Linked DNA regions of Homo sapiens. The protein of the gene in region 2 interacts with the protein of the main gene of each other region in a pairwise test. Each region holds a gene or a part of one and is shown on either strand. Other genes may lie near its edges.

The links. Proteins that work in one complex are often made in the same cells at the same time.
Region 1: the proteins of PACSIN3 (region 2) and CLNK interact in a two-hybrid assay, tested with the Homo sapiens proteins (one large-scale study listed by BioGRID and IntAct).
Region 3: the proteins of PACSIN3 (region 2) and TNPO2 interact in binary tests that used the Homo sapiens proteins (3 or more experiments, as listed by UniProt).
Region 4: the proteins of PACSIN3 (region 2) and RAF1 interact in a two-hybrid assay, tested with the Homo sapiens proteins (one study listed by BioGRID).

What each region holds. Positions count from the first base shown.
Region 1 is NC_000004.12:10,566,269-10,569,768, forward strand, and holds part of CLNK (cytokine-dependent hematopoietic cell linker), read right to left. Parts: intron 1-3,500. UniProt on the Homo sapiens protein: An adapter protein which plays a role in the regulation of immunoreceptor signaling, including PLC-gamma-mediated B-cell antigen receptor (BCR) signaling and FC-epsilon R1-mediated mast cell degranulation.
Region 2 is NC_000011.10:47,180,229-47,183,434, reverse strand, and holds part of PACSIN3 (protein kinase C and casein kinase substrate in neurons protein 3), read left to right. Parts: intron 1-365; 5' UTR 366-431; intron 432-625; exon of another isoform or gene 626-632; coding exon of another isoform or gene 633-707; coding exon 708-761; intron 762-875; coding exon 876-1,032; intron 1,033-2,744; coding exon 2,745-2,980; intron 2,981-3,093; coding exon 3,094-3,206.
Region 3 is NC_000019.10:12,717,433-12,720,932, reverse strand, and holds part of TNPO2 (transportin-2), read left to right. Parts: coding exon 1-54; intron 55-1,596; coding exon 1,597-1,672; intron 1,673-1,754; coding exon 1,755-1,904; intron 1,905-3,500. UniProt on the Homo sapiens protein: Probably functions in nuclear protein import as nuclear transport receptor. Serves as receptor for nuclear localization signals (NLS) in cargo substrates.
Region 4 is NC_000003.12:12,654,118-12,657,617, reverse strand, and holds part of RAF1 (RAF proto-oncogene serine/threonine-protein kinase), read left to right. Parts: intron 1-3,500. UniProt on the Homo sapiens protein: Serine/threonine-protein kinase that acts as a regulatory link between the membrane-associated Ras GTPases and the MAPK/ERK cascade, and this critical regulatory link functions as a switch determining cell fate decisions including proliferation, differentiation, apoptosis, survival and oncogenic transformation.

The DNA of each region.
Region 1 (3,500 bases), on a different chromosome or scaffold from region 2:
AATCTAGGGTCTGGGATCTTAAATAGAAGTTTAATTCTTGTGCTAGTGAGAATTCTAAAGATATCTCCCAATATTCTCATCTCTGGTTACTGAATCAATACTAATCTAGGTACTGCTGTGAAGGGACAGTGCAGATGTAATGAAGGTCACTAATCAGCTGACCTTAAAATAGGCAGATTGTCCTGGATTACCTGGGTGGGCCCAATGTAATCACATGAACCCTTAGAAGCAGAAAGAGGACTTACTTGCAAATAAGATAATCTTGTATTTGAAGAATTCACTAAAAAATTATTAGAACTAATAAATAATTCCTCAAGGTGGCAGGATACAGGATTAATATACCAAATTCAGTTGTATTTCTATATGCTAGTAATGACAATTTATATTTCTATAAATTAGTAATAACAAATTGAAAATAGAAATTAAGAAAATGGGCTAGGTGCGGTGGCTCATGCTTGTAATCCCAGCGCTTTGGGAGGCTGAGGTAGGAGGATTGCTGGAGGCTAGGAGTTTGAGAACAGCCTGGGCAACAGAGTGAGACCTCATCTGTACAAAAATGTTTTAAAAAAGAAAACGATTATATTAGCAATAGCATCAAGGAGAATAAAATATATGGAAATACATTTAACAAAAGAAGTGCAAAATTTGTACACTGAAAACTGCAAAAACACTGTTGATAGTAATTTCAGAAGACCTAAATAAATGGAAAGATGACTAATGATCATGGATTGGGAGACTTAATCTTGTTAAAATAGAAATACTTTGCAAATTAACACACTGATTTATTTTGCAGAAATTGACAAGATAATCCTAAAATTCTTAAGAAAATAAGAAGAACCAAGAATAGCCAAAACAATCTTGGGAAAAAAAAAAAAAAAAAAAAGATAAAGTTGGAGGACTAACACTTATTTCAAAAGTTACTACATAGATGCAGTAATCAAGACAATGTGGTATTGGTAGTAAGATAGATGTGCGGATAATTGGAATATAATTGAGGGTCCAGAAATAAACCTTCACACTGAGGGTTAATTGATTTTTAAGAAGTGTACTAAGACAATACAATGGGTGGAAAGAATAGTCTTTCAACAGATAGTCCTAGGACAACTGGATATCCACATGCATGGCAGTGAGGCTGAACCTCTTTTTTATATCATATGCAAAAATTAAGTGCAAATGGGCCTTGAATATAAATTTAACAGCTAAAACTATAAAACCCTTAAAATATTGGAGTAAATCTTCATTTCTTGGCTTAGGCAATGATTACTTAGATAGAACAAAAAAATACAAGCAATAAAAGAAATAGATAAATTGGACTTAATTAAAATGAAAATCTTGTGTGCTTCAAAAGACCACAAAAAATAAAAAGGCAACTGTGGAATGAAGAAAATATTTGCAAATCATGTATCTGATAAGGAGCTTAAATCCAGAGTATATGAAAAACTCTTACAATGCAATGATCTAAGGATAAATAACCAAATTTTAAAGTGGGAAAAGGATATGAATGGATGTTTCTTCAAAGAAGATATGCAAACCATCAATAATCCCATGGAGAGATGCTCAATATCATTAGCCATTAGGAAAATGCAACTCAAAAGCACAATGAGATGTCAGCCATACAACACCAAGATGATTTAAAAAAAGACAGAAAATAATCAGGGCTGACAAGAATGTGGAGAATTTGAGGATCTCATGCATTGCTGATGGGAATGTAACAGGGTACAGCTGCTGCAGAAAATGCTTTGGCAGTTCCTCAAAAGGTTAAACACAGAGCTACCATATAATCCAGCAACTCCACATTCACACAAAAACTAGCACATGTTTATAGCAGTATTTTTCTTAATAGTAAAAAAGTGGAAATAACCCAAGTATCCATGAACTACTGCATAGGTAATAAAGTGTTGTATAGTCACACAATGGAATATTATTCAGCAATGAAAACGAGTAAAGTACTGATATATGCTATAACATGGATAAGCCTTGATAATATTACGTTAAATGAAAGAAGGGAGTCATATACAAAATGGAATGTTGCATGATTCTGTTTATATGAAATGTCTGGAAGAGGAGGATCTATAGATAAAGAGTAGATTAATATTTGCCAAGGTCTGGGGGAAGGGGGGACTGGGTTTCATTTTGAGATGATAAAAATATATTGATTGGAGTGATGGTTATGCAACTCTGTGAATATACAAAAAAACCATTAAATTGTACTCATAAAATGCGTAAATTGAATGGCAGGTAGATTTTATCTCAGAAAAACCTGTTTTAAAAAGCAGAAGAGGAAGTCAGAGAAAGGAAGTAGACAAGAAAGAAAGAGAGATCTGGCAGAAGGACAATTTAGATAGAGGAGTCCAAGAGTAGAAGGATTTGACAACAGCCAGCCAGCAGGGACATGGGGACCACAGTCCTACAACAGAAAGGAACTGGATTCTATGAAACAACCCGAAAGAATCTGGAAGCAAGTTCCTCTTCAGAGCCCCTGGAGGAGAATGCAGCCCTGCCAGCATGTTGCTTTCAGTCTTGTGAGACCCAGAACAGGGGAACTAGTTGAGCCATGCTGTGCCCAGACTTCTGATTGCATCCACTGTGCGATAATAAATGGTCAAGCTGCCAAATCTGTGGGGATGTGACATCACAGCAATGGAAAACAAATGCAATTATTTGGGTCTTTACTGTGAAGGGTGGGGCCTCAAGAAGTGACACCACTCTCTGTATATTGTCTTAAAATGTGACACTATCACAGTAAAAGCAACTGCAATGTGAAATTTTGTGCTAAAGCTGACACCATCATTTTTGAAATTCTAGTTCATTCGATCAGGTTTAGGTGTGAGAATTTAGGTAAAATGTATAGTCAAGAAAATTCTGTGGGTTCATATTCCCCCAGCCACCTCCTCCCCAAGTGAATTGGCCAAGACTGCCCTTTTTTTTTTTTTTTTTTGGTCATTTTTCCATTCCTGAAATGGAGCCAGGAGACCAGGTTACAGACCATTGGTACTGCACAACATTTGAGGGTGGGGTTCTTATCTGATAGGATTAGTGTTCTTATAAGAAGAGACACCAGAGAGTTCTCTCTCTCTCTTTCTCTGGGTTTCTCCCTCTCTCTCCCCACCCGTCCCCAAATGCACACACTGAGGAAAGGCCATGTGAGCACACAGGGAGAGGGTAGTCATTTGCATCCCAAGGGGATAGTTCTCGCCAACCCTACTGGCACTTTGGTCTTGGACTTCTGGTCTTCAGAGTCATGAGAAAATAAACCTCTGTTGTTTGAGCCATCCAGTTTATGGCATATTGTTATGGCAACACTAGAAGACTAACACAGGCACCTATCAAAGGCTCTGGGTCTGAACACTAGACTGGCAGGAATGGACACCAGTCTGCAACAGATGCACTCACACACAATGGTCATTATAGGAATTCTGGAATGTGCTCCTCCGCATTAAAATCTGCAGCCGGCATCATGTTATGTGTAAGCACAGACATGACTCTTGATCTTGCATTCT
Region 2 (3,206 bases):
CCAACACAGAAGCCAGGCCTCTTGGTTCCCTTCGTGCCCTCCTCAGTACAGGGAGCTACTGGGATGTGGCCAGGCACCCTCTGACTTGGCCTCTCGGGTAACAGGGTTGTCTTGTCACTCAAGGGAAGGCAACAGAGGCCCTAGCCTGGGCAGGAGTCCTCTCATCGGCAGTTGGGGGAGTGGGGCCTTCTGCCCACCGCCCACCCCCGCCTGCCATTTAATCCCTGGCTGGATCGTGTGACCTGCCTGGCATTCTCCTCCCTGGAATCCGGCGCTTCTGACAGCAGTTGCTATATTGGGGGTGCCGGGCACCGCCCTGGACGCTCTAGGCCCCCACCCTCACCCCCGCTCTGTTCTCCTTCAAGGCAGAGTCACGGTGGCAGCATTGAGAGTTGGACACCCGGGTCCTTGAAGTGATCTCTAGGCCCCAGGTATGTGGGGGGGCGGGGGGGGAAGTGCAGAGCAGTGAGAGGAAGAGCTTTGAGACTCCATCCTCACCCATCCTGGCCCTTCTTAGGGTCTTCAGCACCCTGCCTGCTAAGTCCTAGCTCTGATGACTCCTTGGGTGGTGGGGATGGCAGTGGGGCGAGGCCCAGGTATAGAGAGGGTCTTTTCCTATCCCCAGAAACATAATGTCCAGCTTTCCTGCTTACCCCTCTGCCCTCCACAGCCCCAAATCCGCCACCATTCCGTGCTGCGGGGACACCATGGCTCCAGAAGAGGACGCTGGAGGGGAGGCCTTAGGGGGCAGTTTCTGGGAGGTGAGCAGCTGGGTCCTGGGCTCAGCTACTTGTCTAGGGGAGGAGCCCATCTGACAGCCCCAGCCCCAAAGGAAGCTTCTCCCTGGTGATGGCACCCTTTTCCTGTATGCCCAGGCTGGCAACTACAGGCGCACGGTACAGCGGGTGGAGGACGGGCACCGGCTGTGCGGGGACCTGGTCAGCTGCTTCCAGGAGCGCGCCCGCATCGAGAAGGCTTATGCCCAGCAGTTGGCTGACTGGGCCCGAAAGTGGAGGGGGACCGTGGAGAAGGGTGAGCCAGGCCCTCGCAGGGGGCAGAGGGCAGCTGAGTGCAGGACTGTCGGGCCAGCTTCTTTTTGCACGTCTCGTGGGAAGTTTGAGGCCTCCACGTCTACCCTCCCTTAGAAAGGGAAGATCCTCCTGGTCATCCTCATGGCTGTGGTGTTATTAAAGTTTATAAAGGATGCTCATGAGTTACTTTGATAGTTGCAACAACCCTGTGGAGATGGTTGTTTTACCCATTTTCTTTCCTTTCTTTTTTTTTTTTTTTTGAGACGTTTTGCACTTGTTGCCCATGCTGGAGTGCAGTGACATGATGTTGGCTCACTGCAACCTCCGCCTCTCAAGTGGTTCTCCTGCTTCAGCCTCCCAAGTAGCTGGGATTACAGGCACCCACCACCACGCCTGGCTAATTTTGTATTTTTAGTAAAGACGGGGTTTTACCATGTTGGCCAGGCTGGTCTCAAACTCCTGACCTCAGGTAATCCACCCACCTCAGCCTCCCCAAGTGCTGGGATTACAGGCGTGAGCCACTGCATCTGGCCTTCTTTCCTTTGTTTATTATTTATTTATTTTGAGACAGGGTCTCACTCTGTCACCAGGCTGGAGTGCAGTGGTACAATCATGGATCACTGCAACCTCTCCCTCTCCCACGCTCAACTGATCCTCCCACCTCAGCCTCCTGAATAGCTGGGACCACAATAGCTGGGATCACAGGCATGGACCACCACACTTGGCTAATTTTTGTATTTTTTGTAGAGATAGGGTTTTGCTATGTTGCTCAGACTGGTTTTGAACCCCTGGGCTCTAGCGGTCCTTTCTCCTTGGCCTCCCAAAGTGCTGAGATTACAGGCGTGAGCCACCGTGCCCGGCCTGGATTACAGGCATGAGCCACCGCACCTGGGCCTGTTTTATGCATTTTCTAGAGGAGAAACTGGAAGCTCAGAGAGGCTAAGGGACTTGCCTAAAGGCACACAGCTAGGAAGTGCTGAAGGTTGAGCCCAGGCCCTCTGACTGGGAGCATGGATCTTTCCACCCTGCAAGCTGTCTTCCTCGAGGGCACACACAGGCTCTTCCTTTGAGGCAATGGAGTGTAGTGTTTACACAACAGAGATGGGTTTGAATCTCAGCTCCTCTTTTTTTTCTTTTTTTTTGAGATAGAGTCTCGCTCTGTCACCTAGGCTGGAGTACAGCGGCGTGATCTCAGCTCACTGCAGTCTCCCCCTCTCGGGTTCAAGTGATTTTCCTGTCTCAGCCTCCCAAGTAGCTGGGACTACAGGCGCCCGCCACCATGCCCGGCTAATTTTTTGTAGTTTTAGTAGAGACAGGGTTTCACCGTGTTAGCCAGGATGGTCTCGATCTCCTGACCTTGTGATCCACCCGCCTTGGCCTCCCAAAGTGCTGGGATTACAGGAGTGAGCCACTGTGCCCGGCCCTCAGCTCCTGTTGTAGCCATAATGCTTTGGGCGAGTTCACATCTCTGGTCCTCAGTGTTTTGCCTGTTCAATGTTGGCAATGTCGCTGTCCTCACGATGGTGGCTGAGACAAGGAGTCAGTGAGATAAGGCACATGGTCCTCATTCAATAAGCCCAGCTGACAGGGTTGTCATTCACCTTTGCACCCCATGCGCGTACCCCATGCCTCCATGCCTCACACCCAGTGAGAGGGGCTAGGCTCATTTTGGGTGGTACCCAGGCCTGGCCTAAGCCCTGTCCCTCCCTGCAGGCCCCCAGTATGGCACACTGGAGAAGGCCTGGCATGCCTTTTTCACGGCGGCTGAGCGGCTGAGCGCGCTGCACCTGGAGGTGCGGGAGAAGCTGCAAGGGCAGGACAGTGAGCGGGTGCGCGCCTGGCAGCGGGGGGCTTTCCACCGGCCTGTGCTGGGCGGCTTCCGCGAGAGCCGGGCGGCCGAGGACGGCTTCCGCAAGGCCCAGAAGCCCTGGCTGAAGAGGCTGAAGGAGGTGAGGCTGGGTGGGGGAGGTATCCGAGACAGGCTCCTTCCTGTTTGTTTGCAAGGGATCGAGGGGGCCAAGGTGTGGCATCCAGGGTCCAGAGTGGTCTCCATGCATGCCAGGTTGAGGCTTCCAAGAAAAGCTACCACGCAGCCCGGAAGGATGAGAAGACCGCCCAGACGAGGGAGAGCCACGCAAAGGCAGACAGCGCCGTCTCCCAGGAGCAGCTGCGCAA
Region 3 (3,500 bases), on a different chromosome or scaffold from region 2:
CTGCTCAAAGACTCACAGTCGCCCAACACAGCCACTCAGCGCATCGTGCAGGATGTATCCTTCCTTCCTTCCGGGGCTGGGGGAGCCGGGTAGATGCGTGCAGTTTCCAAAGGCCAGAGAGAGAAAGAGAGGGACTGACTCCCCTAGTCCCCAGATTTTTTCTGCTGTGCGGAGGATCTGCCCTGGACAGAGAAGGATTACAATTCCTGGGTCCCATTTCCAGAGCTGCGGGGATTGTTATAGAAAATGATGAAAATTCCTAATGTTCATCGAACGCTAGCATCTACTCCATTAACTATTAAAGTAGGCCCTGGCCCAACGGGGTGGCTCATGCCTGTAATCGGAGCACTTTGGTAGGCCGAAGCAGGTAGATCGCTTGGGCCCAGGAGTTTGAGACCAGCCTGGGCAACATAGGGAGACCCCATCTCTACAAAAAATACAAAAAATAGCTAGGTGTGGTGGCATGCACATGTAGTCCCAGCTACTTGGGAGGATGAGGTGGGAGGATGGCTAGAGCCCAGGAGGTAGAGGTTGTGGTGAGCTGAGATTGTGCCACTGTACTCCAGCCACCCTGGGCGACAGAGCCAGACCCTGTCTCAAAGAAAAGATATATAGGCCAGGCGCGGTGGTTCACGCCTGCAATCCCAGCACTTTGGGAGGCCGAGGCGGACGGATCACCTGAGGTCAGGAGTTTTGAGACCAGCCTGGCCAACATGGAGAAACCCTGTCTCTACTAAAAATACAAAAATTAAGCCAGGTGTGGTGGCAGAAGCCTGTAATCTCAGCTAATTGGGAGGCTGAGGCAGGAGAATCGCTTGAACCTGGGAGGCGGAGGTTGCAGTGAGCGGAGATCGTGCCACTGCACTCCAGCCTAAGTGACAGAGTGAGACTCTGTCTGAAAATAAATAAATAAATATTTAAACCATGAGCATGACTCACCCCAAAATTTGGATTCCCTCTTTTAAAAAAAAAAAAAAAGTCTTCATGGCCTGTTAGTGGGGATCGCTGACTAGTAGCTGCCACTTTAAGAGGAGTGGGATTCTCCTTCCCTCTCCTGCTCTGGCTGGGTCTTCAGGAGTGGATGGGAAACTCAGACATTTCCACCCAACTCCTTGTATGATTTTTTTTTTTTTCAAGATGGAGTCTTGCTCTGTCGCCCAGACTGGAATGCAGAGGCGCAATCTCGGCTCACTGCAACCTTCACCTGCTGGGTTCAAGCGATTCCCCTGCGTCAGCCTCCCAAGTAGTTGGGAATAGAGGCACGCACACATCATGCCCGGATAATTTTTTTGTATGTTTAGTAGAGATGGGGTTTCACCACGCTGGCCAGGCTAGTCTCGAACTCCTGACCTTGTGATCCACCCGCCTTGACCTCCCAAAAAGTGCTGGGATTACAGGCGTGAGCCACCGCGCCCGGCCCCTTATATGAATTTGACGTGTCTGAGGTGCTCTGTGTCATTGTGGGCTTATTAGGGAGCGGGATCCCCCAGGAGCTGGCAGCCTGGTCCCAGTGGTCAGAGATAGTGTCAGGTACATAATGAGGGGACCTGGCTGGGGGAAGGCCTCTGTCTTCCAAGTCCCTTAACAGCCTGGCAGAAACTCAAACAACTCAATCAGTTTCCTGACTTCAACAACTACCTGATTTTCGTCCTGACCAGACTCAAGTCAGAAGGTACGCCCTCTGCTCCCTTCCATGCGATCGGGACCCTGCTTTCTCCCCCTGGGCCCCTGAACCTCAGCCTTCCTCCTCCCAGATGAGCCAACGCGCTCTCTCAGTGGCCTCATCCTCAAGAACAACGTGAAGGCACACTATCAGAGCTTCCCACCCCCTGTGGCAGACTTCATCAAACAGGAGTGTCTCAACAACATTGGCGATGCCTCCTCGCTCATCCGAGCCACCATTGGTGAGAGGGGCAGCGGGGGTTGGCCTCTGAGGACACACTGAACTCTCACTTCTCAGCATGTTAAGTGTAGTGCTTCATGGAATGCTCTGGCACCCTCTATGGTAGTACTATTACTATTGCCATTTGATAGATGAGGAAGCTGAGGCGCTGAGCTATTAAGGGACCTGTCTGGGTAAGCAGCAGAAGTCAGAAACAGCTGAGGCAGTGCAGGGCCACGCTCTGGAACCACTCCCTCCTGAAACAGTCCTTCTTGGCTCTGAGACAGTCATGCAACATCTAGAATTTTGTGTTCGGCCTTGGGCTGAGTGCTAAGGGTATAGCAGTTAAAATAATGCAGGTATTCATGTTTCAGGTGCAACGGAATTAGGTTTTCAGCAGAGCCTTTTCTGACTCTTGGAAGGTGGCCTGAGGAAGTTACAGAAAGATGACTAAGAATAGGCTCACGCCTGTAATCCCAGCAACTTTGGGAGGTCAGGGTAGGCAAATCACCAGAGGTTGAGTTCAATACCAGCCTGGCCAACATGGTGAAACCCCGTCTCTACTTAAAATACAAAAAACTTAGCTGGCCAGGCATGGTGGCTCACACCTGTAATCCCAGCATTTTGGGAGGCTGAGGTGGGCGGATCACAAGGTCAGGAAATCAAGACCATCCTGGCCAATGTGGTGAAACCCCATCTCTACTAAAAATAGAAAAAATTAGCTGGGCGTGGTGGCACTCGCCTGTGGTCCCAGCTACTCGGGAGGCTGAGGCAGGAGAATCACTTGAACCCAGGAGTTGGAGGTTACAGTGAGGCGAGATGGCGCCACTGCACTCCAGCCTGGCAATACAACGAGACTCCATCTCAAAAAAAAAAAAATTAGCTGGGCGTGGTGGTGAACATCTATAATCCCAGCTACTCAGGAGGCTGAGGCAGGAGAATTGCTTGAACCCAGGAGGCAGAGGTTGCAGTGAGCCGAGATTGCGGCACTACACTCCAGCCTGGGCAACAGAGCAAGACTCCATCTCAAAAAAAACTAAATAAAATAAAAACAAAAAAAATGACTTCTGGCTGGGTGTGGTAACTCACGCCTATAGTCCTAGCACTTTGGGAGGCCAAGGCAGGCGGATCACTTGAGATCAGGAGTTGGAGACTAGCCTGGCCTACATGGTGAAATTCCGTTTCTACTGAAAATACAAAAAATTACTTGGGAATTACAGCTGGTGGGCACCTGTAATCCCAGCTACTCGAGAGGCTGAGGCAGGAGAATTGCTTGAGCCCGGGAGGCAGAGGTTGCAGTAAGCCAAGATAATGCCACTGTACTCTATCCTGGGCAACAGACTGAGATTCCATCTCAAAAATAAAAAGTAACTTTTAGTCCTGCAAAAACCCCCTCCCAGGCCAGTAGTAGGATGTGGACTTCCTGAGCTCATTCTATGTGCCAGGCTCTTTGCTAAGTCATTGAAACTTACTGATCCAGGCTGAGCACAGTGGCTCACGCCTCTAATCCCAGCACCTTGGGAGGCTGAGGCAGGTGGATCACCTGAGGTCAGGAGTTCGAGACCAGCCTGGCCAACATGGTGAAACTCTATCTCTACTAAAAATACAAAAATTTGCT
Region 4 (3,500 bases), on a different chromosome or scaffold from region 2:
GTATTTTTAGTAGAGATGGGGTTTCTCCATGATAGTGAGACTGGTCTCGAACTCCCGACCTCAGGTAATCTGCCCACCTCGGCCTCCCAAAGTGCTGGGATTTACAGGTGTGAGCCACTGCGCCTGGCCCCTGCCTGGAAATTCTTAAGAATTAAATATTATTTTCTTTGAGTAAGTAATAATGTCAGATGTCACAAAATTTAAAGGATATAGAAAGTTATGTTGTGCATAGTTATTCTACGTTCTCCTTTGTTCTCTAGCTACCCAGCTTCCTTTCACAGAGGGAAATGTGAATTCTTATGTATCCTATTTTGTGACGACACAAAAATATTTAAGGGTAGATGTGCTGGCCTTACTTTCTTGCTCAAATCTTCCAGGCTCTCCCTGGCTACCAGACTAAGTATATACAATTCTTGCTTCTGTGTCTTGCTCACATGGCTTTCTCATAGTAATAGTATGTTTAGTGGAAATCAAAAGCCAGTATTTTTAGGCCCCTGTAGGTGCAGGCCAGTGCACTTGGTGCAGCATAAGGCAAGTTCCTACCTTCAAGGACCTTATCTAATTGAGAGAGGCTGACATTTCCTTACTTTTATCTATTCCTCTTTTTTTTTTTTTTCCCCGAGATGGAGTTTCACTCTTATCACAAAGGCTGGCGTACAGTGGCGTGATGTTGGTTCACTGCAACCTCTGTCTCCCGGGTTCAAGTGATTCTCCTGTCTCAGCTTCCCAAGTAGCAGGGATTACAGGCATCTGCCACCACGCCCGGCTAAATTTTGTATTTTTAGTAGAGATGGGGTTTCATGATGTTGGCCAGACTGGTCTTGAACTCCTGACTGCAGATGATCCACCTGTCTCAGCCTCCCAGAATGCTGGGATTACAGGTGTGAGCCACCGCAGTGGCCAAGTTGAATTTCTTGTATAGATGTCTTATGTCTCAGTTTAAAAATGAGGCATGTCTTACTCTTGCCTATATATTTCCAGTGGGGCATGTCTTATCCTTTTTTATATATCTCCAGTTCTCAAAACCTTGTCTTACACAGCAAACATTAATCAGAGGTTAATCACTTATGGATTTAGTTTCACTCTACTGCCATCTCTCCAAAATGCTTACAGTAAAGAGGCTACACTTACTAAATTCAAACTTAGAACTTTGTAACTTAGGACCTGTCTGTTGGAGGAGGTAAGTTGCTTAAGCTTCTCCCTCTATTGGGCATTATATGTAGAGTGCTCTAGGTTCTGCCTGCTAGCTCCTTGATGACATTTGCCTGCTTTAGCAGGACACTGACTCTTCAGCTCAAGCAGCTGTTACCATGCTGGCTATTTCCTTTTGCATTCATAGGTTTTAGATATGGAAGAAAGTTATACCCAGAGAGAATGGGGGGATAAATGATAATCTTCTACCATTTTTGACCTTAGTCTGGTCCAGCATTATAGTGTGATTTTGAGAGGAGAGATTGTGATTTCCCTGGCTAGTATTATCTAGTATTGCCTGACAATGCAAAATGGACCCCTAGGCTGTCTTATGTAAGTTGGAAGGGGGCGGATTGGGGGTGGGGTGTGTGTGTGTGTATCTACAATCCAGTGACATTTAACAACATTCACAATGTCTTAAAACCATCGCCACTACTCGTTTCCAGAACCTTTTTGTTACCTCAAACAGAAACAGTACTCATTAAGCAAGAACTCCTCATTCCTCCCTATGCCCAGTTCCTCGTAACCCCTATTCTACTTTCTCTCTATGAATTTGCCTATTCCAGGTACCTCATGTAAGGGGAGTCATACACTATCTGGCCTTTTTTGTCTGGCTTATTTTACTTAGCACATTTTTGAGGTTTATCCATGTGGTGGTGGCATGTATCTGTATTTTATTCCTTTTTATGGCTGAATAATATTTCATTGTATGAATATATCATTTTGTTTATCTCCTCATCAGTGATGGACACTTGGATTATTTCCACCTTTTGGTTGTTGTAAATAATGCTGCAGTGAACATTGGTGTACAAATATCTGTTGGAGCCCCTGCTTTCAGTGCCTTAGGGTAATGCACAGGAGTAGAATTACTGGATCATATGGTAATTCTGTGTTTACTTTTTGAGGAACTGCCAAACTGTTTTGCACAGTGACTGCACCATTTTACATTTCCCACCAGCAAAGCACAAGGGTTCCAGTTTTGCCACATCTTTTCCAACACTTGTTATTTTTTCTTTTTTAATTTTTAAAGTAACAATCTTGGGCTGGGCACGGTGGCTCATGCCTGTAATCCCAGCACTTTGGGAGGCCGAGGCGGGCGGATCACCTGAGGTCAGGAGTTCGAGACCAGCCTGGCCAACATGGTGAAACCCCGTCTCTACTAAAAGTACAAAAAAAATTCGCTGGGCTTGTTGGCGCATGCCTGTAATCCCAGCTACTTGGGAGGTTGAGGCAGGAGAATCGCTTGAACTCGGGAGGCAGAGGTTGCAGTGAGCTGAGATTGCGCCATTGCACTCCACAAGAGTGAGACTTCGTCTCAAAAAATAAATAAATAAAATAACAACCCTAATGACTGTGAAGTGGTTGTAGGCTTTTTGCATTTTAAAAAATTATTATTTTTACTATTTTAGAGATGGCGGGGGGGGGGTCTCACTATGTTTACCAGGTTGGTCTCGAACTCCTGGCCTCCATTGATCCTCCCATTTTAGCCTCCTAAAGTACTGGGATTACAGGCTTGAGCCACTGCGCCCAGCCCTCCTTTTCTTCTTATTGCTACTTAGATGTAATGGGCAAACCAGAACCTTTGAATTTGGCTATATTTGGATCTGATGGGTTTTTTCCTCCCTCTTAAACTTGTGTATAATGTTGTTCAAAGGGATACATTATGTACACAATTAATGACATCTTTTTAAAAAGAACACTTTCTTTCATCCTTGTGAGGTGTAAGAAGAAAAATAAGCAAAAAAAAAAATGAATAAAGTTTTTCTATAAGTTGATACACACAGTTGTAGTTACTTTATACTCATACCCTTTTTTTGTGTTGTGAGTGACACAGTCTCACTCCATTGCCCAGGCTGGAGTGCAGTGGTGCGATCTCCACTCACCGTAGCCTTGACCTCCCAGGCACAAGCCATCTTCCCTCCTGAACCTGCTGAGTAGCTGGGACTACAGGTGTGTGCCACCACACTCAGCTAATTTTTGTATTTTTTGTAGAGATGGGGTTTTGCCATGTTGCCCAGGCTGATGTCGAAGTGCTGAGCTCAAGTGATTCTCCCGCCTTGGCCTCCCAAAATGCTGGGATTATAGGCATGAGCCACTGTGCCTGGCCTCTCATACTTTTTTATTCTATAATGTATTTAGGGCCAGCCTCTGTGGCTCATGCCTATAATCCCAGCACTTTGGGAGGCCAAGGAGGGAGGATTGCTTGAGGCCAGGAGTTCAAAACCAGCCTGGGCATCATAGTGAGACCCCATCTCTAAAACCAAAAAAACTAGTCAGGCATGTGGTATGCGCCTGTAGTCCCAGCTACT